Linked DNA regions of Homo sapiens. The protein of the gene in region 1 interacts with the protein of each later gene in a pairwise test. Each region holds a gene or a part of one and is shown in the gene's direction. Other genes may lie near its edges.

Region 1 (8,532 bases):
AATTGCTTTTTAACTGGAAAAAGAAGAAATAGCTATATTTTGTCTTAAAATTCAGTTACAGCCTTCTTTGCTTTGAGGCTTGAGGTATATACGCAATAAAATTCCCGTCTTTTATTTCCTAGCTTTTTCTTTCAAAGGGACTTATGATAAACTTGGAGTAAGTAGTTGAGCAGTTAACTATCTGAGCAACCAGACTATGGTGGGGTGGTGGGGCGGCGGGGCCAGTCCCGAAATTCCCAGACATGTGGAAACTTCAGACTCATAAATGTAAAGAGATGGAGAAAGTTGCACTTACCAGAACTCCTCTCAGAAAGAGATTAGAATGTGGTTGGAAAGAATACCGTACTTTATTAATCCTTTTGGGAGGTGAGCTAAGACACATAATTTTGAATAACAAAAGATGATTATCAAACTGTCATTTTAAGGAGGGTGGATTCAGTTAATGTTAGTTAACTACTGTGCCATTCTGAATGGGGTTGAACCTCAAAGAGGTGAATTACTACTAAGCTTCTTCAGATAAAGATTAAACAACTAATACTAAGTAGAGGTTTGGAAGGGTGCCAGTTTATTAGCTGACTAGGGTTGTCCCTTCTTCATCTAAGAGTATAGCAGAATATTGGTGTAAGAATACACTCCTGGTGGGGCGTGGTGGCTCTCACCTGTAATCCCAACACTTTGGGAGGCTGAAGCAGGCGGATTGCCTGAGGTCAGGAGTTCGAGACTAGTCTGGCCAACATGGTGAAACCCCACCTCTACTAAAAATACAAACAAGTTAGCGAGACGTGGTGGTGTGCGCCTGTAATCCCAGCTACTTGGGAGGTTGAGGCAGGGGAATTGCTTGAACCAGGGAGGTGGAGGTTGCAGTGAGCCGAGATCATGCCACTGCACTCCAGTCTGGGCGGCAAAGCGAGGCTCCGTCTCAAAAAAAAAAAGAGGGAATACACACCTGTGTAGTAACAGACTGTTCCTGGAAGTGTCCTTATATTTGTAACCGCCCAAAGGGTTCACCTTGCCCACTGCCTAGACAGAGCTGATTTATCAAGATAGGGGAATTGCAGTAGAGAAAGAGTAATTCACGCAGAGCCGAGTGTGCACGTGACCAGAGTTTTATTTTACTCAAATCAGTCTCGCCAAGCATTCACGGATCCGAGTTTTTAAGAACAATTTAGTGGGTGGGAGGAAGCCAGTGAGCCAGGAGTGCTGATTGGTCAGGTCAGAGATGATATCATAGGGAATCAAAGCTGTCTTCTTGTGCTGAGTCACTTCCTGGGTGGGAGCCACAAGATCAGATGAGCCAATTTATCGATCTGGGTGTTGCCAGCTGATCCATCAAGTGCAGGGTCTGCAAAATATCTCAAGCAGTGATATTAGGAGCAGTTTAGTGGTGGTCAGAATCTTGTAGCCTTCAGCTGCATGACTCCTAAATGATAATTTCTAATCTTTTGGCTAATTTGTTAGTCCTACAAAGGCAATCTAGTCTCCAGGCAAGAAGGGGGTTTGTTTGGGAAATGGCTTTTATTGTCTTTGTTTTAGACTATAAACTATAAACTAAGTTCTCCCAAAGTTAGTTCAGCCTACACCCAGGAACGAACAATGACAGCTTAAAGGTTAGAACCAAGATGGAGTCGGTTAGATTAGATCTCTTTGACTGTCTCAGTCATAATTTTCCAAAGGCAGTTTCATATTCCTTACTGATGGGCCCTTCTTATGTTGCTTTATTGTTAGTGGAAGATGGAACTTCTGTAAAAACACTGGAAACACTCCAGCAAAGAGTGAAGCGTCAAGAGAACCTACTTAAGCGTTGTAAGGAAACAATTCAGTCACATAAGGAACAATGTACACTATTAACTAGTGAAAAAGAAGCTCTGCAAGAACAACTGGATGAAAGACTTCAAGAACTAGAAAAGATAAAGGTAAAAGAGCAGATGAGTTTTGTTCTAATTTAATCTATAAAGTTAGATCCACAGGCTCCACAGCATGGCTTGTACCTCCGGGAGAGGAGAGTGGATGGAAAGGGCATTTTTGTTTGCCCTGGCCTACATAACACCAAACCTTGAGACTTACTGTGTACTTTTTTCCTTCTGCACTGTAACATGTATATAAATTAGATAAATGTTTAGAGTTCTCAAATGAGAAGAAGCTTTATTAGAGATGGAAATGAATTTAAAAATTTTTTTTAGGACCTTCATATGGCCGAGAAGACTAAACTTATCACTCAGTTGCGTGATGCAAAGAACTTAATTGAACAGCTTGAACAAGATAAGGTAAAACAACAAAACCTATGATACTAAAATTTGTCAAGAGGCCCCAACATTTACTTTTGGAAACAGTTGGAAACATTCATGCTTGTTTCTGTTTTCTAAAAATTATTGCAGCTTTTTCCATGAAAAATCTTTAATTTCTAGATTTTTGTAACTACTAGCATTAGTTTTGTGTCATGTAAAACTGATTCTCTGATTTCTTGATCCCAGTCAGCATTATGATTTGTAGACTAGAATAACTGTTGCAAAGGAAGTTTATATTTATAGTACATAACTACTTTACAGAGAAAAGTTATTTATAGTTAAGGCATTATAAATGTGAATGATATCAGTATGTTCTTTCAGATAATATGGAAACAGATTAATCTCTCAGATAAGTTGCCTAACAAATAAATAAGGGGCTGGGCACAGTGGCTCATGCCTTTAATCTCAGCACTTTGGGAGGCTGAGGCGGGAGGATTGCTTGAAGCCAGAAGTTCAAGATCAACCTGGGCAGTAAAGCAAGACCTCCTCTCTACAAAAAAAAAAAAAAATTAGCTGGGTATGTTGGTATATGCCTGTGGTCCCAGCTACTCGGGAGGCTGAGGCAGGAGGATTGCTTGAGCCCAGGAGTTAGAGGCTACAGTGAGCTATGGTCACACTAGTGTACTGCAGCCTGGGTGACAGGGTGAGACCCTGTCTCTTAAAAAAACAACAAACAAAAATAAGTGATAATGTATATATTAGCATAAATAAAAATGTCTACAAATGAATTTTAGAATGTGTAGATGAGATTAGAGGATTGAGGAAGGAATGAGTCTTACCTTTGGTAGTTTGGAGTTGGAGCAGCAGCTAAAGCTACGCAGCAAAGACAACCAGAAAATTCATGGGTAAACAGTTTTGACCTGTCTTTCAGCTCCAAGTTCTTGGGTCCTTTTTCTAAGCAGCTCCCAGTTTGTTCCATAGCATCCACCATTTTCTTTAATATGCCGGGTTATCACTAGAGTATTTTAAGTGGTCACGTAATTAAGAACATGTCAGAGCTGTCCTGCTGTTAAAATGTATTGGCAATCTTTTTCATCCTTTTGATAATACTGCTTTGCTAGATTATACACTTCTTGAGGGCCTACTTAAATTGTTTTTTTTTTTAAATATTATAATGAAGAACTTAAAACATTTACAAAAGAAAAGCTGCTAAAATGAATTTCTTTGAACCCACCACCCCGCTTCAACAGTTAACATCTCATGACTAATCTTGTTTCATCTGTACCTTCTCAACTGTCATTGTCCTACTCACCCAGAATTGTTTTAGAGCAAATCCAAGAAATTTTATCATTTTTTTCCAAAAGTATTTTAATATATCTTTAAAATAAAAGACATTATTTTTACAATACTATAACCACATTATCATGATCACATCTAAAAATTTAATAATTTTAAAATATGACCTGCTATCTAGTCAGTTTCAGATTTTCTCTAGTTTCTCATATATTTTTTGCTCTTTTATGAATCAGGGTCCAAATAAAGTTTTTTCATTGCAATTGGTTGATATGACTCTTAAGATTTCTTTTAATTTACTGGTTTGATTATCTTCTCTCCTTCTCTTTCCACTATATTTTGGTTTTTGAAGAAACTGAAAGCCCATGATTTTGTTTTGAGATTTCATATAGCAGTGCCTCACTTACGTGGTTGTTATCTCTCTGTCTCTCCATTAATATTAGCCATCTGGAAGAGTCATATTCTAAAGCAAGGGTTGGCAAACCCTGTGGAGAGGGTGCTAATCTTAAGACCATGAAATTGTTGTCACAAAGTCTGAACATTTTTTCAAGAGACAAGTGAACCACCTCATTTTTTGTTAGTCCTAAATGACTTTTTTACTGTATACCATTTAGTTGTCTTTTTCCCCTGCCGACCTCCATTTCTAGTGTAGATTATCCAGAAAGAGGGAACAGAAGTAACTAGCAAGTTGGAGGAATGGAGATGCCTTACAAAGTAAGGAATAGTGGTGGTACCAGAGACAGTCACAGGAAGAAAGAGAAGAACCAGGTAGATGTGTCCTGGGATTTTGCTTTATCCAGTGTGGCAGCAGGCACCTTCCATTCTCAAGTGTCTGGGGTTATCCCCATGTTATAGTACAGATCAATACTTGTAGTTTATTGTAGTGCCAAGCCAGGTTCAGAAGACTATATTTTGTTCATTATAAACTGTTTACTAAGACAGATAGCACATTTGTAGAAAGGCTATAAAATAAATCTTTTAAGTAATAATGTTTTAATGCTTTAAGGATTAAACTATTAAAATTTTTAATGTAAAAAATACTGTTATGCTAGGTAATAGGATTAGAGCAGAAAACAGACCTCAGTTTGTGAAGTATTGAAATAATTGTTATGCTGTACTTAGCAAGAAATATCATTTTTTCTGCCTTTTATTTTTTGTTTTTTAATTTTTAATTTTTTTTTGAGACGGAGTCTCACTCTGTCACCCAGGCTGGAGTGCAATGGCGTGATCTCAGCTCACTTCAACCTCTGCCCCCTGGGTTCAAGCAATTCTCCTGCCTCAGCCTCCTGAGTAGCTGGGATTACAGGCATATACCACCATGCCTGGCTAATTTTTGTATTTTTAGTAGAGACAGGGTTTCGCCATGTTGGCCAGGCTGGTCTCGAACTCCTGATCTCAGGTGATCCACCCTCCTTGGCCTCCCAAAGTGCTGGGATTATGGACATGAGTCACCATGCACCATGCCCGGCCTTTTTCTGCCTTTTAAATTAAGTTTTATCTGTGCTGTTGATGATGCAGTTTTGTTATGCAAATGTTTTAGAGTCTTCACTTCTATTCAGGGAATGGTAATCGCAGAGACAAAACGTCAGATGCATGAAACCCTGGAAATGAAAGAAGAAGAAATTGCTCAACTCCGTAGTCGCATCAAACAGATGACTACCCAGGGAGAGGAATTACGGGAACAGAAAGAAAAGTCCGAAAGAGCTGGTAAGAACTTGAGGGTTACTTGTTTTATGTTGGAACTCAAAAGTTATTTAAAGTGCTTGACCAGTATTTTTAAAAATGAGTTAAATATTGATAAAAATTCTTAACTATAGAGGCTCCTAATAAGACACCCATCTGCTCATTAGAGGAGGCAGAGGTTGGCAAACTGTGGCCTGTGGGCCAGATCCAGCCCACAGCCTATTTATGTACAGCCCTTAGGCTAAGGATGATTTTTACATTTTTAAATACTTGAACAAAAGAAAAATATATGACAGAGACCATATGTGGTCTACAAAACCTAAAATATTTATCATCTGGCCCCTTACAGAAAATGTGTGCTGACAGAGTATCAAAATTCAGATTTAAAATTGTAGAACTTCCCAGTAGGTACAGCATGGTACTTATTAAATAATTGCTACCTTATAGATGCTTTAGGGTAAACAAAAAGTCTAAGTTATAGTCTGCTTTTAAAGAGAATAATGAACACTTCAGTGTTAATAGCATGTTTTGACACAATAAATGCTGGGCTATAAAGTATAGAAACCAGCATAGTATTCAACAAGGTACAAAATCGACTAAAGCTAGGAAAGGAGGGATGTTTGAAAGAGGAGAGAGCAGGATGAACTGTGCCTTCACATCAGTGAAGATGTGAGTTTTGAATTGGACCTCAAATAATCAATAGAATGGGCCTAACAAGAGAGGTGTGGGCAGCACACATTTCAGATGCTACAATGCCGTAAACAGGCACAGTGATCATAGTGGGTGTGTGAATCAGCTGAAAACCATTCTTGCTGAAGTGGGAAATGCAGTTGGATTGTAAAGGAACTGACTATTGAAATCTTAAAAGGTAGGTAGCTGAGTTTAGACTTTGATATACAGAGTAACAGGAAACCAGTAATAGGAAGGCATAATGTGATGGGAGCTAGGGTTTTATGTAGAAAAGAAATGAAATAGGAAGTCAAACTTAGAAGCAAAGACAGAAATCCAGTTTGAGGGACTGTGAGCTTTAGCCGCCTTGCTAGGATGGTGGTTCTGGGAAGGAGAAGAAAGGTAGAATCTGTAGAATTTGGTATCTGATCAACTCAGGGAGGCAGAAGAAAAGTAAGGACTCTAAATTGACTCCAAAGTTTTAAGCTTAGGACACTTAATGAATAGTAGTGTGGAATTAGAATAGGAAATCTAAATGGGGAAGTTGAGAATTGGAGTGAAATGATGGGTTTTTTAGATACACTGAATTTGACCCAGTCATGAGCTTTTCAAATGGAATTGAGTTGCAGGAATTTGGAAATAAGAAATTGGAACATCTTTCAGGAGTCATCAGCCTAGGATCGAAGCCTGTGGTTAAATCTGTAGGAGAGGCGGATTTCTACAAAAGATTAAGTTTTACAGTAGTAGTAATAGTCATAGTGGTAACAGCAGCAGCTGCTTCTGCTGACGCTTATTTAGCACTTGTTGCTGCTACTACTACTGCTGCTACTATTGTTAATACTACTGCTAGCCATTACTTACTTTAGTAATGCTCTGCTCTAAGGGCTTTGCTTGTATTTACTTGTATTGCATCCTCACAAGTGTATGAAATAATACTATTATCTTCATTTTACAAATAAGCAAACCTAAGAACATAGAAGTTAAGTAATTTACCTACATTTATGCACAGAGAATAAGTATATACTCAAGATTTAATCCAGGCATTGTGACTCAGAGTCTGTGCTCTTAACCATATAGAGGTCTTGAGTTTGGCAATGAGACATAAATGAGAAAAAAAAAGTTACCTCATGAAGTCATAGGAATTGTGGATAGTTTTTTGGGGGAATATAAGATATGTTTCAAGAAATGGAGAAGGTAAGATGAAGACTTTGAAAAGGTCCTTGAATTTGGCAAGGATTTGATTTGGAGGATGCAGTTTTGAGAAATGATTTTATAAACCAGATTTTAAGGTGTTAAGGAGGGGACTGGGTCTCTAGACAGAGAAATAGTTGACTATTTCATAAGTATCTCCCCATCTTCTTGGACTTATTTTATGGATAAAGTGACTGGGGAATTTAGTTAATGAATTTGTTCTCATCAAACCTAAGAAAACTTCCCTTTAGAGAGAGTAGATGGCATCTTTCAGAATATAATCTTTGAAGACTGACTTGAAGCAGTTTGAGTGTTGTAAGACATTGGTTCAACAGGTTTGCTTTCAGTGAACAGAAAATCTAATGCATAGCCTCAGCTTCTCATATCAAGCCTTTCCATTTTTAGAACTGCTTTCTGTTGACTGTTGTAGCCAGTAGAGAGAAAATGTTGGTCAGGGGATTACATTTCTTTTAAAATTCAGTGTACTTAATGAGGAGATAGAAACTGATTAATAAATATCAAGTTGAAAAGGGTAAATGATGAAAAGGTAGACAAAATATATAGTTCATTTACATGCGGATAAAATTTTCTGGTATATGTTCCAGTTAAACCTTTAGTAGAACAGCTTTCCTTCCCTTGCTTGCTTCTCCAAAACACAGGTATATTTTGTCTTTCAGTGTGATTTTCATAAACCATATTTTTTTAATATTTGATAGCGTAAAGGTTTAAAATTTTTTCTATTAATACTGTCAAAAATAAAAAATAAATACTAAAAGAATTAAGATTTAAATTATTATTACTTTTTTTGGGCACAATCTCGGCTCACTGCAACCTCCGCCTCCTGGGTCCAAGTGATTCTCGTGCCTCAGGCTCCTGAGTAGCTGGGTTTACAGATGTGTGCCACCACACTTGGCTAATTTTTGTATTTTTAATAGAGACCGGGTTTCACTGTGTTGGCCAGGCTGGTCTCGAACTCCCAACCTCAGGTAATCCACCCTCCTTGGCCTTTCAAAGTGCTGGGATGACAGGTGTGAGCCACTGCGCCCTGCCAGATTTAAATTATTAATGGATACATTTATTTTGGAAAGTCTTTAGATAACAAAGTTGTAAGTGCTTTTATAGATTTCTTAAAAATTATATTTGTAGTCATAATAATTGAGGGCTATGATGCAAAGTTGTAACAAACTGTCTCTACATTGAAGATAATGCCTTTTACATCTATAATGAAAGCTAGTTTTGCACACAAACTGTATTTCATTTAATAGTCTTAGTTGAGTCTAAACAGAACTGTTCAAGTAGGAAGTGATTCTTAGTTCAAATGTAAAGGTATATGCCAATTGAAAGAAAACTTCCAATTAAGTACTAAACATAAGAAAAGGTCAATGTAAAGGAAGTAGGATTTCTATAAATAGTCTGGCTATTGGAAAATTCAATTGCTCTATTAAATATTTGTTTTATTCTTTGTTAGATT
Region 2 (8,532 bases), on another chromosome or scaffold:
TTCTTTCATCAGTTCCCCATACTTGATATTTAGTTGAAGGTCACTCATCAGCTTGTCAGTGGAATGCTGTGGCATTGACACTGTTCTCTGAGAACATTTGGTAGTACGTGGATTTACTCCTGAGGCAAAGGATAGAAACCCAAAAACCTTTTTGTAGCATAGAGGCTTTGCTTTATATTCTTAGAAAGTAGTGGTGGTTCATGCCTGTAATCCCAGCACTTTGGGAGGCCAAGGCAGGTGGATCATTTGAGGTCAGAAGTTCGAGACAAGCCTGGCCAACATGGTAAAAACCCATCTCTACTAAAAATAAAATTAAAAATAGCCAGGCATATGGTGGCGTATGCCTGTAGTCCCAGCTACTCGAGAGCCTGAGGCATAAGAATCACTTGAACCTGGGAGGCAGAGGTTGCAGTGAGCCAAGATTGCACCCCTGCACTTCAGCCTGGGCAACAGAGCGAGACTGTCTTAAAAAAATAGTAGACCGGGTGTGGTGGCTCATGCTTGTAATCCCAGCACTTTGGGAGGCCAAGGCGGGCGGATCACAAGGTCAGGAGATCGAGACCATCCTGGCTAACACGGTAAAACCCCGTCTCTACTAAAAATACAAAAAATTAGCCGGGCGTGGTGGCAGGCGCCTGTAGTCCCAGCTACTCAGGAGGCTGAGGCAGGAGAATGGTGTGAACCCGGGAGGCGGAGCTTGCAGTGAGCCGAGATCGTGCCACTGCACTCCAGCCTGGGTGACAGAGCGAGACTCTGTCTCAAAAAAAAAAAAAAAAAAGTAATAAAAAATAAAAAAGGAAAGTAAGTAGATGGTTATACTCAAGTTTGGGTTATTCAGAAATTACCCAGGATGGAGGAAGAAAAAGGTGTTCAAATTCCTAGGTTCTGAGAGTATTTATCTTCAGGTCACGAGCATGAAAGGAAGTTTCAAAGTAAGTGACCCTTTCATAAGATTTAAACCTTCTTGTCCTTTTTCATCTAGAAACTATTAGTTTTTATTGTCTTTTTCTTCAGATGATAGAAGATGTTTTGGGAGAAGGGTCAGTCTCTGCCAGTCGGTTCAGTAGGTGGTTCTCTAACCCGAGCAGATCAGGAAGCCGATCCAGCAGTCTTGGGTCAACACCACATGAAGAGCTAGAGAGACTTGCAGGTAAAATGGCTTCAGATTCTGCCCTTGAAGGTAAACCTGGGTTTTTCCCTGATATGGTTCATTTTATCTTCATTAGTCAGGAGTCAATTAGGGTCAAAGGGTCTCTGGACAACTGAAAAGCCTTCAATTTGTGTCCTTTTAATATTGTTGAAGGGGCCGGGTGCAGTGGCTCACGCCTGTAATCCCAGCACTTTGGGAGGCCAAGGCAGGCAGATCACAAGGTTAGGAGTTTGAGACCAGCCTGGCCAACATGGTGAAACCCCCATCTCTACTAAAAATACAAAAATCAGCCAGGCGTGGTGGCGGGCATCTGTAGTCCCAGCTACTCAGGAGGCTGAGGCAGGAGAATCGCTTGAAACTGGCAGGCGGAGGTTGCAGTGAGCCGAGATTGCGCCACTGCACTCCAGCCTGGGCGAAAAAGCGAAACTCCATCTCAAAGAAAAAAAAAAAAAAAAAGAAAGAAAGAAAAATACTGTCGAAGGCATGTTTCTTTACTGGAACAGATTAATTTTGAGTATGTTTATTTGCAATATCAGGTCTGGAGCAAGCCATCCTCTCTCCTGGACAGAACTCGGGGAATTACTTTGCTCCTATACCATTGGAAGACCATGCTGAAAATAAAGTGGATATTTTAGAAATGCTACAGAAAGCCAAAGTGGATTTGAAACCTCTTCTTTCCAGCCTTTCTGCAAATAAAGAAAAACTTAAAGAAAGCTGTAAGTGTTTATGAATATCTGTTTTAGATATCTGAAAAGGTCTAGATGTTCAGTCTTCAGGCAGTTGGGTCTAACATAACCTCTGTTTCATAAAAAGTCAAATATATATTGGGTTTTTGTTTAATGTTCTTTTTTAAAAACTCATTTCATCAAACAATACCACCTCTTTGAGAATCTCACAGTGGGTCATGAGCCCTATGAGAACTTTTCCTGTAAGTTCTTACCTAGGGTCTGGTTGTAATAATCCAGTGAATGTTGAAAACAAACTCCAGTGAATGTTTTATTCCTCCAGAGCATAACTTACCATTTCCTCACAAATCTGCCCTAGTCTTCCATGTTCTTGCTTAGGCTATAAATTCTCAACATAAAAACTTAGTGATATAATGACCACGGTGCAGGCAGCAATCTTGGCAATGTTGGGCTATCTGGGATTCTTGTCCCAGGTAACAAGTCTCCCAGAAGACTCATATCCTTCTGCAGGATGCACAGCAGGAGCTTGTCAAGTTTTAAAGAATAGCACTTCATAGTTGTGGTCCCCCAGTTTCTAGCATCTAAACATTTTAGGTTTAGTTTATGCCATCTCTTAGTACACAATTTGATTTTAAGTGTTATTAGTTTATTTTTGGTGTCAGTCTTTTCTGACAGTCTCATCTCAATTTTGAAATAAATTATTTTCATCTTATCTGTCATACTAGCCAAAGAGAATTCCTACCAGATATCTCTTTGCTTGATTTAACCTGGACGTTCTCAACTTCTCAGCACATTCAGGGGTTGTGCTTTCAGTGGAGGAGGTAGAAGCAGGTCTGAAGGGCTTGAAGGTTGACCAGCAAGTGAAGAATTCAACTCCCTTCATGGCAGAACACCTAGAAGAGACCTTGAGTGCCGTAACCAACAATCGACAACTGAAGAAAGACGGAGACATGACTGCGTTCAACAAGCTAGTGAGCACAATGAAGGCAAGTGGGACTTTGCCTTCTCAGCCCAAAGTCAGCGTAAGTATCTGACACAAACCCCCCACCCTTTTCTCCTTTTTTTTTCTTCTTTTTCCCACCACAATAAAAGGATTTTTAAAAAGGTATTCTGAGTAAGTTGGAAATTCTTTAGTAGTCATTTGGTCCTTGATGCTTTTGTGTGTTCCTTAATTATTGATATGCTATTTGTTACTGGAAAAAGCAGGCTTGTGGTTAATTTATATGTATTGTGGGTGACAGTATAAAGATTAAAAGATTCAGTCTTAATGGTAATGCCTGTATAACTTTAAGTCACTGCTAAAATGAGGTATAAAACTATCTTTTTGGATGAACTCCAGAGACAATTTTCTTGTTATTCAGCTACTTAAGTTCATATTCTTTACCATATTTGTATAGTAAAATCTTTATTCACATCTTCTAATTATTCCCAGATACCAGGGATTACCTGCATTCTTGCAGTCATACAAATCATTTGTAAAGTATCTAAGATGGGGCTGAGCACAGTGGCTCACGCGTGTAATCCCAGCACTTTGGGAGGCTGAGGCAGGCAGATCACCTGAAGTCAGGAGTTTGAGACCAGCCTGGCCAACATGGTGAAACGCCATCTCTACTAAAAATAAAAATTAGCCAGGCGTGGGGGCATGCGCCTGTAATCTCAGCTACTTGGGAGGCCAAGACAAGAGAACTGCTTGAACCTGGGAAATGAAAGTTGCAGTGAGCCGAGGTCACGCCACTGCACTCCAGGCTGGGCAACAGAGTGAGACTGTCTCCAAAAAAAAAAAAAAAAAGTAAGATGGGTTTGTCAGGATAATTACATTCTGTCAATTTACTAATGGAAAAAGTTGTGGCTCCAAGTTAAAAACAAAACTTGTAGGCATGAAGTTAGGTTACAAGGTGACACAACTGCATATCACCTTGTAAATGCAAATGTTTATAATATACTGGTTCTTTGTCCTAACAATTTTGAGAGGGTAGTTCTTACCCATAGCCTATGTGTTAATATCACTATCTCTTGATACAAACTAATGTGGAAGCAGGGTAGATATGAATAATAAAAACATAAACATGGACTTATTCTAGTTGCTAAGTTATAGCAAATTTACCAAATTGAGTTTTCTCTCTTTTTTTCCTGTTCCCTGCTTGCCTGGGAACTTACCAGTTAGCCAAGATGCAAGTAGCAATAGCTGTTTGAATCATTATGTCTTATACCAAAAGAAAGCAACTGACTTTTAGCATTCCTTATCTGACCAATAGGACAGACAGAGGTTCCATTATTCCTTAGTGCCAGGACTGACCTACACTTGAAAGGAGGCACCTCAGATAGGTAGACTGACTTCTTTGTATCTGACCACACCATACCAGTTGCAGGAGAATGTCCCTGTAAAACTGCTTTAGAGTTACTTTTATACAAAGAATTATTAGATACAAATGCTTTCAAATGAAGATCAGACTGAAAGATGGTAGACTATCCTATTTTCCTTTCTCGTTACATTTGTGTCTTGGTGATTGGGTGCTGACTGCAATGGTGTGGTTCATATCTTATAATTAGCTTCTTTCTTTTGGTGTGAGCAACTAAAAATATGGAAGGGGGCATTCAGCAGTTTACCTGATGTTTTTCCACATTTTATTGCAGATATGATTCTAGGATTTGATATTAACACAATTTACTCGAGTTGTAAGGGCAGTTGGTTTGATGTTGGGGTTTTAGCACTCAGAAGTGTATCTGGTTTTAGCTGAGCAAATGAGCCTCAAACACCTGCCAAACGGATGGATGACACATTCAAGTGGCTAGGCAAAGGCTAAGACAAACTCAGCTAGCAGGAAAGAATACAACAAGGAAAGTAATGGAGTAAGAATAGCAGGTGTTATCTCAAAATATTGCTCAATTTGCATGTTGTTAAGTCATGGTTTACTTTTTGAATTCGGTGTCTTTAATTACTACTGCTGTGTATGTTTTGTATACTATTTCTGATCTGCCTCCATCCATTTAGGTTGTCATATTGGTTCATCCAAAAATAATACATGCTGGTTCAATCTAAATTCTGTTTTAAATTATAGATTCTATCCTCCAAGTATAATAAGCCATGCAGTATAAAGTTGTCTATTTGTTTTTATTAGATGGAAGTAAATGACTCTTAAAGAGATTACTTATAAAATCATCTGCCTTTAGTCCCAGTTCCAAAATCAACAATAAAATACTTGGGTATTCTTGAGCTATTTGTCATGCCTAGACACTGCTTTGGACTTTGACAGCTCCATCTAGTGGAAGGGAAACTACACCAGAGAAAGCACTTCACACAGAGCTAAATGGGCATAGGGATGTCCTGAAATGCAGGAGGGGACTCCAGGTTGGATGCACAAAATGTAACCACTGGCCAGGCCTGGTGGTGTACACCTATAGTTCGAGCTACGTGGGAGGCCAAGGTGGGAGGGTTGCTTGAACCCAGAAGTTCAAGGCCAGCCTGGAGAACATAGACCTGTCCCAAAAAAAAAAAAAAAAGTAACCACTACTGCTTTAAGAGTGGAGGATTTGAATTTTGCCCTGTATGTGATACCCATTTTGGAACAGCTCGTTTAAAAAATAATAAAGTTGCCGGGTGCGGTGGCTCATGCCTGTAATCCCAGTACTTTGGGAGGCCGAGGCGGGCAGATCACGAGGTCAGGAGATCGAGACCATCCTGGCCAACATGGTGAAACCCCGTCTCTACTGAAAAAAAAAAAAAATTAGCTGGGCGTGGTGGCATGTGCCTGTAGTCCCAGTTACTCAGGAGGCTGAGGCAGGAGAATTGCTTGAACCCTGGAGGCAGAGGTTGCAGTGAGCCAAGATCGTGCCATTGCACTCTAGCCTGGTGACAGAGCAAGACTCTGTCTCAAAAAATAAAATAATAAAGCTTAAATTTCCTGAAATATGAAACTCTGAAATATAACAATTTTGGCCAAACCTGCATGTTGTTTACTAGGATTTTAAAACCATATGTGTAGGCAGGGTGTGGTGGGTCACGTCTATAATTTAGCCAGCACTTTGGGAGGCCAAGGCCAGAGGATTGCTTGAGCCCAGGAGTTCAAGACCAGCCTGGGCAACGTGGCAAAACCCCATCTCTACAAAAAATATAAAAATTAGTTGGGTGTGGTGGCATACACCTGTAGTCCCAGCTACTCAGGAGGCTGAGATGAGAGGATCGCTTGTGTCTGAGAGGTCAAGGCTGCAGCAAGCCATGATTGCACCACTGCACTCCAGACTGGGCAACAGAACAAGACCCTGTCTCTTTTGTGTGTGTGTGTGTGTGTGTGTGTGTGTGTGTGTGTGTGTGTGTGTGTGTAGTATATATATATGTGTGTATGTATGTGTGTATATGTATGTGTATGTATATGTGTATATGTGTGTGTATATATGTATGTATATATGTATGTGTGTATATATGAGTGTGTGTGTGTGTGTGTGTGTCTCCAATAAATCTTGTTAAAGGTAATGGGTAGCAAGAGTTATCTCAAGTAAGTGTTCCCCGGTTTCACCATTTTTCCCCCTTTTGGTCACAGTGTTAGAAACAGGGAAATGGACTTAGGATTAGCATAGTGAGGATCTCTGAGGGGACTTTGCATGTACATGTGAACGGTCTTTCCATCCCCAGATCTTTGAGACCTGTGTGATGAGAGCGGAACACGTTGGTCTAAGTTTTCTGTGACTTGAGTATCATTCTGCTATTAACTCCCTAGGAGTATTTTATGCTTTCTTGTGGTCCCCAATCAATCTGTAAGTTAAGTGAGTTAAGAAAGTTAAAACCAGTTTTCTTTTGACTCTTTTAGCGAAACCTTGAAAGCCATTTGATGTCCCCTGCTGAGATTCCAGGCCAGCCTGTCCCTAAGAACATCCTGCAGGTACTTCACAATCTTATACTGAGGCCTTGGAGTCTTGAACAGTAGTCTTCTGAACCAGTTTTGCTTAGTGGTCCAACTTTGGGCCTTAGAAAATGATCTGTGTTGCCTGGCAATCAGAGAGGTGATATTGTTGCCTGACATAGTTTGGTGTTGCTTTTAATCTCAATGGGCAGGGGATAGGGGATGGCTAAAAAAGTTGACAAAGTAAGCCTTGACTTCTAGTTTCCTTTGCAGTTTCTGTGAAACTTAAAAGTATCTAGCCAGGCACGGTGGCTCACACCTGTAATCTCAGCACTTTGGGAGGCTGAGGTGGGTGGATCACCTGAGGTCAGGAGTTTGAGACCAGCCTGGCCAACATGGTGAAACCTTGACTCTACTAAAAATACAAAAATTGGCCTGGTGTGGTGGCACATGCCTGTAATCCCAACTCCTTAGGAGGCTGAGGCGTGAGAATCGCTTGAACCCGGTAGGCAGAGGTTGTGGTGAGCCGAGATCATGTCACTGCACTCCAGCCTGGGTGATAGAGTGAGACTCTGTCTCAAAAAAAAAAAAAAGGAACCTCTATTTATAGCACTAACTTAGAGCATATGTTGCTAGCTGAACATTCAGATAAATGTGTTGCATGTACACATGCCAAGTCCTTCAGTTGAGCATGAGGGAGATCCATCTTGTGGCTCTCAAAAGTTAATCCATAATTCACAGCCTCTGAGTAGAAGGAATAACTAAGTTCACAGGGATTTGGCTTTTCTGCCTTTAGGAACTTCTGGGTCAACCAGTTCAGAGACCTGCTTCTTCCAATCTTCTGAGTGGCCTTATGGGGAGCTTGGAGCCTACAACATCTTTACTGGGCCAAAGAGCACCCTCTCCTCCCTTGTCACAGGTGTTTCAAACTCGAGCAGCCTCAGCTGACTACCTTCGCCCAAGAATACCATCACCAATTGGTAAATATACTTATTTGTCAAAAGAAATATGAATTTATGGCCAGGCACGGTAGCTCATGCCTGTAATTCCAGCACTCTGGGAGGCCGAGGTGGGCAGATCACCTGAGGTCAGAAGTTTGAGACCAGCCTGGCCAACGTGGTGAAACCCCATCTCTACTAAAAATACAAAAATAGCCAGACGTGGTGGTGCATGCCTGTAATCCCAGCTACGCAGGAGGCTGAGACAGGAGAATCGCTTGAATCTGAGAGGCGGAGGTTGCAGTGAGCCAAGATCACGCCACTGTACTCCAGCCTGGGCGACAGAGCGAGACTCTGTCTCAAAAAAATAAATAAATATACTTTTGGGGGATGGGGTACCAAACGTGGAAGATACCAGCTGCTCTTCTAGGTGAATATGTTCATGTTATAGATTTTTTTTTTATTGAAATCTAACTTTGATCTAGCTCTTTAGTCTTATTCCTTATTTTGGGAATTCAATCCAAAAAAAGTTAATTTGGCTTCTTAAGTTTTTCTTTGATATAGTAGAAGTCAGTGTAGTGGTTATCTATGAAGCTATTGAGTTTTGATAGACAATCTGCTGTTAAGTCTTATGGCTAATTCAGAATGTGACTGAAAGAAAAGTTCCAGAAAGTGTCTTAGCAAAGTATTTACATGGAATGTCGTAGTGTTCCTGCTATCCTAGGCCACTTTAGGCTGCTGGCCACTCTGGCTCCTGCCAAACAAACCTTGAGAGGCATTTTTTGAAATCTTCTGTCCACAGTCAAACAATGGAGAGAATGTGTATTCTCAGAGCAATGGTGTCTATTTTAATACCAGCTGGCTTAGTGATAACGGGACAAACTGCTGGCTAGGAAAGCTCTTCTCTCCCAGAGAGAGGT
Region 3 (7,346 bases), on another chromosome or scaffold:
CCTATATTTACAGCCATACAGTCTTATTTTTAAGGTTTGATCTATGCAAATACAGTATTATATATACTTCATGTAATGTGTAACATGTAGATTATAAAGTATATGAATAACTTTTCAAAGGAACACAAACTCTTCACAGGACAGTCTCTGGTTTCAGTGCAATACAGTTTGGATCTGAGTGGATGATGAATTATAAGCCATAATAATCTGACACTGTGTCAAGAGCAAATTTGTGTATATATATATATGTACATATATATTTATGTGTTTGCCTATATATGTGTATATATGTGCATGTGTGTATATATGTATGGGGTATATATATATAGTATGTATATATAAGTGTGTATATATAGGTGTGTGTATATGTATATGTATGTATATGTATGTATGCATATATATGTATATGTGTATATATAGGTGTATGTATATATGTATGTGTATCTGTATATATATAGGTGTAGGTATATATGTATGTGTGTCTGTATATATACATGTGGGTATATATGTGTGTGTGTGTGCGCGCGTGTGTGTATATATATATATATATATATTTATGCATGTGTAAATTGAAAAGTAAGCAGTCCAAATTTTCCCTTTTACAGACAGACACCAAACCAGTGCAGATGATGAACATGGAGGCCACGTTCTGTATGGGAAACATTGACAGTATCAATTGTAAGATCATAGAGCTTCCTTTTCAAAATAAGCATCTCAGCATGTTCATCCTACTACCCAAGGATGTGGAGGATGAGTCCACAGGCTTGGAGAAGGTAAGGAGAAGGCAGGTGCTCTCCACAAAGGCACCCCCTGCCTTGGCAAAGAGTTGTGCCAACAGGTCTGTGTGGGCCGTGAGAGCTGGGCCGGTAGCCCTCCCTTATTGCCACTGGCTCAGTCACCTCCAAGGACCCATGGTTCTTTCTGGGGCCTTTCCTCCTTAATATTAACAACAGCCAAAATTTATTTGGCACTTACAGTGTTCTAGGGACTGTGCTAAGTTGCCTACGTGCATTATCTCATTTAATTCTTACAGCAGGCTGATGAGTTAGAGACTGTTACCACACTCTTGTTTACCAGTGAGGGAGCTGAGGCACAGAGGGGTGGGTAACTGGTTACATAATTAGTCAAGGGTGTGTGCAGGATCAGGATTTGGGCCCAGGTAGTTGGAGCCAGGTTCTTAACTGAAGGCTAGAGTGTCTCCCTCACCTCCTAGGCAGTTAAGGCACTACGTTGCTACGCACTGCCAGGTCCACTATCATGTGACCTGATGTCAAGCATCCTCTCTCTTGCTCTTTCTTTTTTTTTAAAATTAGTAGATGTTATTTTTAGAGTAGATCTATGCCTACAGAAAAATAAGCAGAAAGTACAAGGAGTTCCCATATACTCCCCTTCCCGTCCCAGGCCTACAGTTTCACCTGTTATTAGCATCTTGCATTAGTTTGGTATGTTTGTTACAATTGATGAGCCAATACTGACATATTACTATTATTATTATTATTATTATTATTATTGTTTTAGAGACAGGGTCTTGCTCCATTGCCCAGGCTGGAGTGCAGTGGCATGATGGTAGCTCACTCTAACCTCAAACTCCTGGGCAGGCTGGAGTGCAGTGGCATGATGGTAGCTCACTCTAACCTCAAACTCCTGGGCTCAAGTGATCCTCCTGCCTCAGCCTCCCAAGTAGCTGGGACTAAAGGCACACAGCACTATGCCTGGCTTTTTTTTTTTTTGTAAAGGTGGGATCTCACTGTGTTGTCCAGGCTGGTCTTGAAATCCTGGCCTCAAGCAATCCTCAGCCTCAGCCTCCTGAAGTGCTAGGATTATAGGCATGAGCCACCACACCTGGCCTTCACAATTTACGTTACGGTTCACTCTTTGTGTTGTACATTTATGAGATTTTAATACGTACACATATATGCTTCAAAATTTTGAATTATGCAGATACTATTTTATAGTACACATTATATATAAGTATTTTATTTTATATGATAAGGGTTATTATATTATTTTATTTATATAGATTTTTAAGGCACAAAGTTTAAATAAGAGTAGCAGTTTTCTCTGCAGGTGAATGGAGTTTTAGCTTCCTCTCTGCTCCCTCACCTCTGCTTAGCTGGCTGAGGCCTGTTCTCCCTTTAGTCCCTCCCTGGCTTCCATTCTAGCTCCACCCCGCCTGGCCTCAACCCTTGGCCAGGAAGGAAGAAGGGGCTCTTTGAAGGCCTGGATCACTTGCTATATATCCACATGGGCCTCAGTGATTTGCTGACTTTCCAGGGGACCATCCAGTCTCCAGCTTGCTCCTTTGGTTGCCATTATGTTTTAGCCACCACTTTATTAACTGAATTATAATTCCTGTCCTTCTTCTTCTTTGGTGCATTACTCTCTCTGTTTTTTTTCTTTCCATTTTATGCTTTGATCTTTCAGCCATTATCCAGCTGTCTTGGATTTTACCTTTCGTTCTTAAAACGCCCTCCAATAAACATCAATTATTTTCTTCTTCTTCTTCTTTTTTTATTTCAATAATTTATTTTTCTTTTTTTTAATTATACATTAAGTTTTAGGGTACATGTGCACAATGTGCAGGTTTGTTACATGTATATACATGTGCCATGTTGGTGTGCTGCACCCATTAAGTTGTCATTTATATTAGGTATATCTCCCAATGCTATCCCTCCCCCCTCCCCCCACCCCACAACAGGCCCTGGTGTGTGGTGTTCCCCTTCCTGTTTCCAGGTGTTCTCATGGTTCAATTCCCACCTATGAGTGAGAACATGCAGTGTTTGGTTTGTTGTCCTTGTGATAGTTTGCTGATAATGATGGTTTCCAGCTTCATCCGTGTCCCTACAAAGGACACGAACTCATCATTTTTTATGGCTGCATAGTATTCCATGGTGTATATGGGCCACGTTTTCTTAATCCAGTCTATCATTATTGGACATTTGGGTTGGTTCCAAGTCTTTGCTATTGTGAATAGTGTTCCAATAAGCATACGTGTGCATGTGTCTTTATAGCAGCATGATTTATAATCCTTTGAGTATACACCCACTAATGGGATGGCTGGGTTAAATGGTATTTCTAGTTCTAGATCCTTGAGGAACTGCCACACTGACTTCCACAGTGGTTGAACTTGTTTACGGTCCCACCAACAGTGTAAAAGTGTTCCTATTTCTCCATATCCTTTCCAGCACCTCTTGTTTCCTGACTTTTTAATGATCGCCATTCTAACTGGTGTGAGATGGTATCTCATTGTGGTTTTGATTTGCATTTCTCTGATGGCCAGTGATGATGAGCATTTTTTCATGTGTCTGTTGGCTGCATAAATGTCTTCTTTTGAGAAGTGTCTGTTCACATCCTTTGCCCACTTGTTGATGGGGTTGTTTGATTTTTTCTTGTAAATTTGTTTGAGTTCTTTGTAGATTCTGGATATTAGCCCTTTGTCAGATGAGTAGATTGCAAAAATTTTCTCCCATTCTGTAGGTTGCCTGTTCACTCTGATGGTAGTTTCTTTTGCTGTGCAGAAGCTCTTTAGTTTAATTAGATCCCATTTGTCAATTTTGGCTTTCAATTATTTTCTTCTTAAAGTATAGAACTAAAGAAAATGACCTTTTGAGTTTTGGAAATGATTTTTTTTTTTTTTTTGAGATGGAGTCTTGCTCTGTCCCCCAGGCTGGAGTGCAGTGGCATGATCTCAGCTCACTGCAAGCTCCGCCTCCTGGGTTCATGCCATTCTCCTTCCTCAGCCTCCCGAGTAGCTGGGACTACAGGTGCCTGCCACGACGCTTGGCTAATTTTTTGTATTTTTAGTAGAGACGGGCTTTCACTGTGTTAGCCAGGATGGTCTCGATCTCCTGACCTCGTGATCCACCCACCTCGGCTTCCCAAAGTGCTGGGATTGCAGGCGTGAGCCACTGCGCCCAGCCGCATCTCTCTCATTTTTTAAAACAGCTAAAATGGATGCATTCACTACCTATGACCCTAGGGCATGGCTCAGAGTTAGTTCAAATTCCCATTAAAAAAAAAAAGTAACTTTAGCTTTAATTTAATTTTCTAAATCTGATGCCATTCCTAGTACATGAATATTCTGGATTTCCTCGTAGAGAAATTACAATAAGCATTCAAGAAATATGTGTAAAAAGCTTTCTAATTTTATATTCATTTCACTATTGTGTATGCAACATCATGATCCAGGCATTTGTTTCTATAAATCTACTCTCTAACTTAAGGTTGGGTGCGGTGGCTCACACCTTTAATCCCAGCACTTTGGGAGGCTGAGGCTGGCACATCACTTGAAGCCAGGAGTTTGAGACCAGCTTGGCCAACATGATGAAACCCTGTCTCTACTACAAATACAAAAGAAAATTTAGCTGGGCATGGTGGAGTGTGCCTGTAATCCCAGCTACTCGAGAGGCTGAGGCACGAGAATTGCTTGAACCCAGGAGGCAGAGGTTGCAATGAGCGACGATCACACTATTACACTCCAGCCCGGGTGACAGAACAAGATTGTCTAAAAAAAACCCAAACAAACAAACAAACAAACAAAAAACTACTCTCTAACTTAAAATGAAAAAACAGAACCCTGTCCTCATAAATTTCAGTGCACATGGAACACTGTTATAGGCTGGGGAGGAGGAGGACACAGCTGGGTGGCTGCTGGGTCTCCTGAGTCACATACCAAAAACTTCTGGGCCATCTTTGATGTTCCACCCAGACTGCTTTGAAGCTGGGCTTATCATAACACCTTATGTTTTCAATTGAGCCAGGTCTTTTACAGTTGGAAATAAATAAAAATAATTTCTTTTCATTTTTGTCCTTCAGATTGAAAAACAACTCAACTCAGAGTCACTGTCACAGTGGACTAATCCCAGCACCATGGCCAATGCCAAGGTCAAACTCTCCATTCCAAAATTTAAGGTGGAAAAGATGATTGATCCCAAGGCTTGTCTGGAAAATCTAGGGCTGAAACATATCTTCAGTGAAGACACATCTGATTTCTCTGGAATGTCAGAGACCAAGGGAGTGGCCCTATCAAATGTTATCCACAAAGTGTGCTTAGAAATAACTGAAGATGGTGGGGATTCCATAGAGGTGCCAGGAGCACGGATCCTGCAGCACAAGGATGAATTGAATGCTGACCATCCCTTTATTTACATCATCAGGCACAACAAAACTCGAAACATTATTTTCTTTGGCAAATTCTGTTCTCCTTAAGTGGCATAGCCCATGTTAAGTCCTCCCTGACTTTTCTGTGGATGCCGATTTCTGTAAACTCTGCATCCAGAGATTCATTTTCTAGATACAATAAATTGCTAATGTTGCTGGATCAGGAAGCCGCCAGTACTTGTCATATGTAGCCTTCACACAGATAGACCTTTTTTTTTTTTCCAATTCTATCTTTTGTTTCCTTTTTTCCCATAAGACAATGACATACGCTTTTAATGAAAAGGAATCACGTTAGAGGAAAAATATTTATTCATTATTTGTCAAATTGTCCGGGGTAGTTGGCAGAAATACAGTCTTCCACAAAGAAAATTCCTATAAGGAAGATTTGGAAGCTCTTCTTCCCAGCACTATGCTTTCCTTCTTTGGGATAGAGAATGTTCCAGACATTCTCGCTTCCCTGAAAGACTGAAGAAAGTGTAGTGCATGGGACCCACGAAACTGCCCTGGCTCCAGTGAAACTTGGGCACATGCTCAGGCTACTATAGGTCCAGAAGTCCTTATGTTAAGCCCTGGCAGGCAGGTGTTTATTAAAATTCTGAATTTTGGGGATTTTCAAAAGATAATATTTTACATACACTGTATGTTATAGAACTTCATGGATCAGATCTGGGGCAGCACCCTATAAATCAACACCTTAATATGCTGCAACAAAATGTAGAATATTCAGACAAAATGGATACATAAAGACTAAGTAGCCCATAAGGGGTCAAAATTTGCTGCCAAATGCGTATGCCACCAACTTACAAAAACACTTCGTTCGCAGAGCTTTTCAGATTGTGGAATGTTGGATAAGGAATTATAGACCTCTAGTAGCTGAAATGCAAGACCCCAAGAGGAAGTTCAGATCTTAATATAAATTCACTTTCATTTTTGATAGCTGTCCCATCTGGTCATTTGGTTGGCACTAGACTGGTGGCAGGGGCTTCTAGCTGACTTGCACAGGGATTCTCACAATAGCCGATATCAGAATTTGTGTTGAAGGAACTTGTCTCTTCATCTAATATGATAGCGGGAAAAGGAGAGGAAACTACTGCCTTTAGAAAATATAAGTAAAGTGATTAAAGTGCTCACGTTACCTTGACACATAGTTTTTCAGTCTATGGGTTTAGTTACTTTAGATGGCAAGCATGTAACTTATATTAATAGTAATTTGTAAAGTTGGTTGGATAAGCTATCCGTGTTGCAGGTTCATGGATTACTTCTCTATAAAAAATATGTATTTACCAAAAATTTTGTGACATTCCTTCTCCCATCTCTTCCTTGACCTGCATTGTAAATAGGTTCTTCTTGTTCTGAGATTCAATATTGAATTTTTCCTATGCTATTGACAATAAAATATTATTGAACTACATGTCTTGTTTTTTTTTTCCTATTAAGTTAGACTATTTTGAAATAGAACCAAGCCGTGCGTTTACAAAAGCATCCCTGAAGCAGGCAGATCACAAGGTCAAGAGATTGAGACCATCCTGGCCAACATAGTGAAACCCCGTCTCTACTAAAAATACAAAAATTAGCTGGGCGTGGTGGCGCCCACCTGTAGACCCAGCTACTCAGGAGGCTGAGGCAGGAGAATCGCTTGAACCTGGGAGGCGGAGGTTGCAGTGAGCCAAGATCAGGCCACTGCACTCTAGCCTGGCGACAGAGCAAAACTCCGTCTCAAAAAAAAAAAACAAAACAAAAACTCAAAACATAAAAACAACAAAAACAAAACAAAACAAAAAGAACAAACCCCAAAAAACCCCAAAGCATCCCTGTAGGTAAAATGCTCTTTTGAAGATTGAGGCAGACTAAAAAGAAATAAGAATAATTACTTCCTCTTTTCCCTTGTTTTCCTTTCTTCCTAGCCCTCAGCTCTGACTTCTTTCTCCCACACTCCTTTCATCCTAGGGAGTAAAAGACCAGGGCAGTGCTAGAATGACTCTCAACTGCATAAACATCTATAATGGAATCAGACACCTTGGGACATAGAGATCTTCCCAGCCCTTTTCACTCTAAACCCACCCTCAAAAGTCATTATATTAGGACACTGTATGTGCTTAAAACATTGTTTCTTCTTATGAAGAGTGTTTTTCTCAATGCCATGCACATTTGTTTTAAATTAGTTATGGTGTCCCTGAACCTAATAT
Region 4 (8,532 bases), about 71 Mb from region 1:
TCTAAAATGACTATTCTGTTACTCCATGTTACTGTTTTCTGCTTGATGCTAATTATTTCCCCTGGACGGACGATCAGTAGTGCCATTTTTTGGTGATGTGTATTCGTGGATAAAGAAATGCTGATAGAGTTGTCATGATTTTAGCTCAGTTGTTTTACCTTATGTTTTAAAAATAAAGCCTTCATAATTGCTTTAATAATGGTTATAAGAAAAGACAAGTATATCAACACAAATTCATTCATTTAAAAAGAAACCTTTTAGTTTCACTGCTTAACTTCTATATACTGATTTTCTAGGTCTTCCTTGTGTTTACTTTTTCATAGACCAACTAATTCTGAGTTGCTGGAAGTCCCAATTTTAAAATATTTCATTAATACTTTTTTACTATGAGCAAAGAGCCACTGTATCTCAACCAGATCTCTTAAATGTATCTAGTCAGGTTTCCTTGTATCTCAGAGCAACAAGAATATGTTCTACTCTGTCCTAGAGCAAACTCCACCCCTGTTTAATATCCTCTTCTAAGGTACTGCTCCTTAATTTTCTTCCTTTAAAGCAGTGACTTTCAACCCTGATTTCCTACCTAAAATCACCTGGAGAACATGTAAAAAAAAAAAGAAAATCGATGCCAGAACCTTACTTCAAGAGTTTCTAATTTAATTGGAGTGATGTGAAACCCTGAAATCATTAGGTGGTGTGTGTTTGCATGTTGGCTTTTTTGTTTGTGATTGTTTAAACTACCTGGTTGATTCTAACATGCAGCTAAAGTTGAGAACCACTGCAGTAGGGATACATGATTGCTTGACCTTGGAGATATTTATAATTAATAAAGTGGGGCCTTCTCATTGAATTGGACCACAACTTTTAAAATAATAGCTATTTACATTAATTTATAATATACAAATATGACAAAACAACTTACCCTTATTCAATAAATATTTATTGAACCATTGAGATTCTTGCTAACAAAAAACAGACATCCAATGGAAAGATATCCTCGCTGTTTTAACCATTGAGTCAGAAACCTTTGGTGCCAGTCCATCTCTTACCACTTGCTAGTCATTTAAATTGTGTGAGTTTCAGTTTCCTTGTTTGTCATTGAGCTAATTTAACAATAATTATACTGGATGACAGTGATGATATAATTTGTATGAAATCATCCTGAATGTTATCTTTTACACATAAAGTGAGAATTTTTTTGTTGTATATCTTAACAAAACTTAACCTCTCTGTGGAGATGATACACTAAAAATGCATATTGCAAAAATCTTGACAACTGTCAAGTGTACCACTCTTATAGAACAACAATTTACATATGGCAAGATTGACCTGGGATTTGGAACAAAGGTTGCAGATTCTGAATTATGGTGAGTATATAAACTCTAATGACAAAATGGCAAGGCAGTAAAAAATCGAAAGATGTGGTGATTCTCATCCTTTTGGAGGACCATCCTTTGGTTATAACTTAAGATATAACAGATTAACAAACATATTTTCATAATGAATTTTTTGTAAATTCATTCAATTTGTAGATTGTGTGCTTTTTGAAGAAAGGTATTAACATTTGTTGTTTTTTATTGTTTAGGTTTGTTTTGTCTTGTTTTAACTTACTATAATTATCTAAGGGTTCTGAACATTTCTGGAGCTCCTTTTTGACATTGCCTCAGTAATCAATTTTACTTTTTTAAATGAAAAGCATGAAAAAACAGAAGAGTAGTTTTATTACAAGGAAATCAGTCACTGCTAAAGGCTTTTTAATAACAGACAACTCTCCTTCCTTGGCAGGTCAGGAATTATGGTTAAAGGTGGATTTTCACTGATGGTAATAAGATATTACTTTATACCCCTTCCCTCCTCATGAATTAAGTCCATCTAATCTTTACTGAGGACCTGCTGAGTGGTAGACACTATGATTTGTTTCTGTTTCCACAGATGTCACAATTGTCAGTAATTGTGGACCTTTAGAGTAAGAATTATCTGTTTTTATATTTGTATACTACTTTCAGGTACAAAACTCAGAACATGACCTAGTGTAATTCATTCATTACGTATTAGATATTCTATATTGCCTAAGGTTACCGTCTGTTGTTGATATTCTAGTGACAAAGCTAAGAATTAAATGAACTGTGTTTCGAAACTACTACTTACTTGAAACAGAAAGTTGAAGCAGGTTGGTAGTAAAAGAAACACTGTCTAAACTAAGGCTATTAATGCCAGTTTGTTCTCTTTGGATCTTGAGTTATAAGAATGTTGATTGAGATTTTTACTTCTCAATAGAAACAGGACTTTATCATCTTGAATTTAAAAAACACAAGTGTTGGTTTTTTTCATTTTCTTTAGAATTTTGGACAGAAACAAGCTCTAAGAAATTTTTCAGTTATCTAATTTAAATGTGATTTATCTTTAAAGCAAACTTGCTGCTGATGTAATTTTGAAAACTCTTGATTTGATTAACAAACTTAAACCATTGGTTCCTGGTATGGAAGTAAGCTTCTACAAAATACTTCAGGTGAGTTTAAACTCTTCAAACATTGAAGTTTATTCATACATAAATGGTCCTAATATAAGTTTCTGTTTTAATATTCTTAATCTTTAGAAGATAATTCTCTTAGAATTGGCAATGAGAAGAAAGTTTAAAGTTGTTGTCTTAAGCAGTTATAATAGTCTCACTGCACAGTTATTTTATATACTTTCACAGGAATTGAACATAAGTGCTCATGACACTAATGTAGAGAATGTTCACAATAGTGCTGCTTCCTCAGCCTTTTCCTTTCTTGTGTTGTATTTGTATATTTCTTCATTTGTTTCTGTTGGCATTGGAGGAAGAGTGATATTTGTTTTAGGGTTTTTGTTTTTGGTTAGGGTTGATGTAGGGTATTAAGGGGATAGGGAGACAGCTGGAAGAAAAGGATTGTGATAATTAGAAGGGCTGTGCAGAAAATAGCTAACTCACAAATTTCAATGATAATAGTAGCTGAATATGATCTCTAGCTGTTATCAAAAGGCAAAGTACAACAAATTTAGTTCAAAGTTCTAACTGGCTTTTATTTATGATTCTAGAATTTGGCAGCCTCATTCTATAAAATAGAATGAATCATTCCCCTGGGCTAAGCAGAGAAGGTTGACTTTATAGACCAGAAAAGGGCTGAAGAAAGCACAAATAGGGAACTAAAAGCAGATTGGTCATTTCAAAGTTACTTTTCCTATAGAATTATAATAAAGGGGGCTTCCTTATTATACTAACTCAGGTTGACTGAAATCTCCTGGTTTTTTGGAAAACTGGCCCATTTCAAAGTGCAGTTTGATTACATGGCACTCATCCAAGTGACTCCTTTCTGGTTTGATCTGGTCTGCTAAAGCATAGTGGAGGAGACTACTCCAAAATATTAGCCTCTTAAAAACTTTGTGTAATAATATCTACAACACCTACCTTTACAACAGATGTTTAACAAAAATGAGTGAATTAAATTACTGCAGTAGCTTAACAGAGACATCTCTAGTGACTGTATAGACAGTGTAGAAGCCAAAACTGAAACCTTAGGCAGGGACCACTGGCATGTTTTGAGATTAAGGGACTGAGTTCAAATGTTGACTCTACTGGTTCTTAGTACAGGCTTGAGTAAGTTATTTCACCTCTCTCGACTTCAATTTCCTCGACTACAAACTGGAAATAATGAGGCTTACCATTGAGGGTTTTGGAGATAAAGCTCTGCTCTTATCACAGTTCTGTGACACTGGATTATACTCAAGTACCTACAAGGTACTCAATATTTTAATTATAAGGGATTTATATTTTAATATTTTCTTCACTAATATCTCAATGTATTTTTAAAGGAGTCAAACTGATGTTATGTCCATTATTTAAGATGTTTTTCATAATACAGGTTGAGCATCCCTAATTTGAAAATCTGAAATCTGAAATGCTCCAAAAAACAAAACGTTTTAAGTACCAAAATGAGGCTCAAAGGTGATACTCAAAGGAAGTGCTCACTGAAGCATTTTGGGTTTTTGGATTAGGGATGCCCAACCAGTAAGTACATGTAAATATTCTAAAATCTGAAAAAAATCAGAAATTTGAAACACTTCTGGTCCCAGACATTTTAGATATATGTTGATGACTTGGGGCTTACAATACTAATGTAAAATATTTACTGACATAAATGATTGAAGTAACTGTATTTTTTCGATCTTTAAATTTAAATGTTCTAATTTAATTTGAATTTTACTTTTTATTTTATAGCCTTAATTTGGAAGTGATTGGCCATTTTTTTCTTTTAAATGATAGCTTGGAAAAAAACATTAATTCTACACATCAGTCAGTTGTGGGTTTTTTAATCCACGAAAATATATAAGGCATAATTTTTATAGGCACATTTGAAAGCATTCAAAACCTTTGCCAGATTTTTTTAAACTGTTCATATTGATTGCATTGCAGTGTAAACAGCTATAACAAGGTATAATATATTCAAACTATATAGACTATAATATATTCAAACATTAGAAACATTTTAGAATTTGCCTAGAATTAAGATTTACATATATTTACTCACCTCCTATCTAAAAGAGCTGACATTGTTTATTCTTTCTGCTGCTTCTTTTTTGGTTTCTGATTTATTTAGGACCCACGTTTGATTACTCCTTTGGCTTTTGCTTTAACGTCAGATAATAGAGAACAAGTACAGTCTGGACTGAGAATATTATTGGAGGCTGCTCCACTGCCAGATTTTCCTGCTTTAGTGTGAGTTGTAATCATTTGCAGTGTATCTCTTGTGGTGTTGGAATACCCTGCTATGTCTCTTTAGTCCTCAGTATAGATACACAAGCAAATTAGTGAATTGAAGACTTCATTGTAATAGTAATTTTTCAAGTGATTTCTAAAAATGTTTGATTCTTATAAATGAAAAGTTCAGATGTATACTCACTCAGGGAAAAGCTAGATCCAGGCAGTTAAATGTTCTTCAGGTACTATCCCTCTATGTCTCTAGCCACTTCTTTTTAATGATAACTTCTGGACACTCTTAAGCCTACATCCTCCCAGTTTAGTTCCTCCATAGAAAGAGCTTTTCCTTCCTGACTGTTTAAGGAAAAGGTCTAAGCATTAGTCATTGACCAGGCCTGGGTTATCCATGAGAACGATGTGGACTAAAAGTTAGTTGGGATAGGAGAATAGGAGAGTTCCTAAAGAAAAAAATCTGAACTTTTATCAGAAAGTGGAAAAATGACAACCAGGCAAAATTTTCTACTATACTCGTTACTTTCAAGCAATAAGAATATTTGCAATTATGTTTGAAAAAAAATTCAGATTTCAGGGCTCTCTGAACTAAATGTCTATTAGGAGTCTGGTTTAAAATTTTTTTAAGTCATTTATATGTATGAATTTGTAAAAATGGTTTGAATAATTTGAAGTAGTTGATAAACAGGTAAGATATTCCCTGTATACCGGGATCAGCAAACTGGCCAGTGGACAGGCATCTGTTTTTGTAAATAGTTTTATTGGAATATGGCCACACCCACTCATTTTTATACTCTGTCTATGTTGCTTTCACTCTATAAAAGCAGAATTGAGTAATTGTGACAGAGACCAGATAGGTCCTTGAGTCTAAAATACTTACTATCTTGACCTATAAGAAAAAGTGCTGGTCCATGCTATATGCTATTCACTGATTTAGCGATTCCACTTTTCAGAATTAGCAATTTAGGTCATCATACCTTAAGAGTTAAAGTATGGGATGTAAGACCTAGAGAACATATAACCAAAATTCCCTTAATTTTATAATAAATATTTTTTTAACAGCAACAACAAAAATACACAGGAAGCTTTTCAAGTTACAAGTTAAAAGTGGTCTGTAAAGCTGCTCTATTTTGTGATGGCCTGCTTGCATAAACTGGTAATCTGACATGAAACAAAACCTTAAGAGCTTCAAAGGGGAATCTGCAGCCTCACTGAACATGGAAGTCTTATCCTCTGCCTCTGTGTGTGAGGCCTTCCCACCATTTTGACTGTGTCTTGGCATTCCCTGTCTTATTTGTGTTGTAAATAATTTTCTCTTTGGGCATTATCTCAGATGTCCATTTTATGCTTACTATTTAATGCCCTTATTTGACATTATCTTGGGCGTTTAATAAACTGAATGTATATTATGGATGCATTGGTAGGTAGGGTTTTTGTGTGTGTGTATTTACTTGTTTGTTTTCGAGACAGGGTCTCACTCTATCACCCAGACTGGGGTGCAGTGGTGTGATCATGACTCACTGCAGCTTCGACCTCTGGGGCTCAAGTGATATTCCCAACTCAACCCCCTGAGTAGCGGGGACCACAGGCTTGTGCCACCACAACTGCTTAATTAATTTATTTTTTTATAGAGGGGTCTCACCAGGTTGCCCAGGCTTGTCTCGAACTCTTGGACTCAAGTGATCCTCCCAAAGTGCTGCGGTTACAGGTGTGAGCCACCATGCCCAGCCTATAATAAATTAGGCTGAGTGCCTGCCATCTTGCAGTTTGCACTTTAGTTAAGAGATAAGTGAAAAAAATATTTTGTTTTGTGGTAGAAAGCGTGTTCCAGATAAAGGAACAGCTCATATGAAGGCCTGAGGTAGGAGAAAGAGAGGATTTTAAAGGGTTAGAATGGAAGTCAGGTTGGTGAAAAGTATGTACTGAGTGAGAAAGGAAAAGGACTAAGGACGTAAAGGCCAGGTGATATCACCCATGATAAGAACATTATTCTGACCAGTACCAATAACTTTGTACTTATTACAGATAATCCACACTCATAAACTAGTCTTACAATGCCTCCAAACCAGAGGTGAAGCTGTCATTATAAAAGGTTAGAAACAGAAAAGTGGGTGCTCTGGAAAATTCAGAATATTTCCCAAGACTTCATTTCATCATGGTCTCCAAGATTATTTGAAGACTTCTATTCAAAAAAAGGACCCATTCTTAAAAATTCCCTAATTCTGCACTAAGTCTGCCTTTTCTTCTATTTTCGTATAATTTTTTTTTCCTTTCTTTGACTCCCATTCAGACTTGGAGAAAGTATAGCAGCAAACAATGCCTATAGACAACAGGAAACAGAACATATACCCAGAAAAATGCCCTGGCAATCATCAAATCACAGTTTTCCAACATCAATAAAGTGTTTAACTCCTCATTTGAAAGATGGTGTTCCTGGATTGAATATTGAAGAATTAATAGAGAAACTTCAGTCTGGAATGGTGGTGAGTGAAAAAATAGCAATTATAACCTGGTACATATTAGCTATATGTCAGTCCCAATTATAACGTGTATCTAAACACTGTCAGGTACAGATTTCACTATTGAAACCTTAATATAAGAAATAACAATATTCTGGAAAATTTGGAAATAAGAAAAATCAGTCAAAATTTCAACATTTTGCCGGGTGCGGTGGCTTACGCCTGTAATCCCAGCATTTTGGGAGGCCAAGGAGGGTAGATTGCCAGAGCTGAGGAGTTCAAGACCAGCTTGGGCAATATGGCGAAACCCCGTCTCTATTAAAAATACAAAAAATTAGCTGGACGTGTTGGCTCATGCCTGTTGTCTCAGCTACTCTGAAGGCTGAGGCAGGAGAATCACTTGAACCCAGGAGGCAGAGGTTGCAGTGAGCCAAGATCATACCACTTCACTCCAACCTGGGTGACAGTGAGACCCATCTCAAAAAAAAAAAAGAAATATTTGTGACTTACCTGATGTAGCATTTGTTTTTATTTTGTTACTCATCATTAAGTTTTAATGATTTAGTTTTGAAGTAGGCATTTATTTTGTCATTGTGTCAAAATATTTTATTAAAATTTTAAGTTTTTTTACTCTTAAAATGTAGGTAAAGGATCAGATTTGTGATGTGAGAATATCTGACATAATGGATGTATATGAAATGAAACTATCCACATTAGCTGTGAGTATAAGCTTATTTTAACAATGTGTAATAAGCTTTAATAGATGTATTCCTAAAATGAAAATTAATGATATGTTTTCTTGTAGTCCAAAGAAAGCAGGCTACAAGATCTTTTGGAAACAAAAGCTCTAGCCCTTGCACAGGCTGATAGACTGATTGCTCAGCATCGCTGTCAAAGAACTCAAGCTGAAACAGAGGTGTGTAGAATATAAAGACACATCTGATTTGTAGAAAAATTAATAAGTAAAACATGCAAAATATTAGTTATGTATTTGTTACTCTAATTGAAGTAAATTCTCCTTAGCATTTGACATGCCTCCTTCCTTCTTCCTGAAATTCTGTCCTCTTTAATTTTGGTTACATCGTTACCTGATTTTTTTTTGCTACCTTGTATTATTTTCCTATGTTATTTATTTTGTACCTTTAAGTGTTGGGGACTCTGGGACTTATATTCTAAACCTTTTTCCTTTAGTTATGTGTTCTGTGGTTTCAATGGTTACCAAAATAGTAATGTTCCTAATTTTATATGTCAAGCACAGATCATTTTCCTGAGCACTATGTGCCTATGTTGCTCCATTTAAATATACAGCAAATACCACAAACTCAGCATAACCAATAATGAACT

The links.
Region 2: the proteins of GOLGA4 (region 1) and EIF4ENIF1 interact in a two-hybrid assay, tested with the Homo sapiens proteins (one large-scale study listed by BioGRID).
Region 3: the proteins of GOLGA4 (region 1) and SERPINB5 interact in a two-hybrid assay, tested with the Homo sapiens proteins (one large-scale study listed by BioGRID).
Region 4: the proteins of GOLGA4 (region 1) and CIP2A interact in a two-hybrid assay, tested with the Homo sapiens proteins (one study listed by BioGRID).

The regions. Positions count from the first base shown.
Region 1 is NC_000003.12:37,297,108-37,305,639, forward strand, and holds part of GOLGA4 (golgin subfamily A member 4), read left to right. Parts: intron 1-1,725; coding exon 1,726-1,913; intron 1,914-2,180; coding exon 2,181-2,264; intron 2,265-5,077; coding exon 5,078-5,225; intron 5,226-8,532. UniProt on the Homo sapiens protein: Involved in vesicular trafficking at the Golgi apparatus level. May play a role in delivery of transport vesicles containing GPI-linked proteins from the trans-Golgi network through its interaction with MACF1. Involved in endosome-to-Golgi trafficking.
Region 2 is NC_000022.11:31,448,470-31,457,001, reverse strand, and holds part of EIF4ENIF1 (eukaryotic translation initiation factor 4E transporter), read left to right. Parts: intron 1-1,014; coding exon 1,015-1,150; intron 1,151-1,686; coding exon 1,687-1,866; intron 1,867-2,625; coding exon 2,626-2,858; intron 2,859-6,641; coding exon 6,642-6,713; intron 6,714-7,470; coding exon 7,471-7,654; intron 7,655-8,532. UniProt on the Homo sapiens protein: EIF4E-binding protein that regulates translation and stability of mRNAs in processing bodies (P-bodies). Plays a key role in P-bodies to coordinate the storage of translationally inactive mRNAs in the cytoplasm and prevent their degradation.
Region 3 is NC_000018.10:63,498,515-63,505,860, forward strand, and holds the end of SERPINB5 (serpin B5), read left to right. Parts: intron 1-605; coding exon 606-773; intron 774-4,815; coding exon 4,816-5,208; 3' UTR 5,209-6,571; downstream 6,572-7,346. UniProt on the Homo sapiens protein: Tumor suppressor. It blocks the growth, invasion, and metastatic properties of mammary tumors.
Region 4 is NC_000003.12:108,559,329-108,567,860, reverse strand, and holds part of CIP2A (protein CIP2A), read left to right. Parts: intron 1-1,222; coding exon 1,223-1,364; intron 1,365-2,406; coding exon 2,407-2,506; intron 2,507-4,616; coding exon 4,617-4,735; intron 4,736-7,019; coding exon 7,020-7,212; intron 7,213-7,832; coding exon 7,833-7,907; intron 7,908-7,993; coding exon 7,994-8,104; intron 8,105-8,532.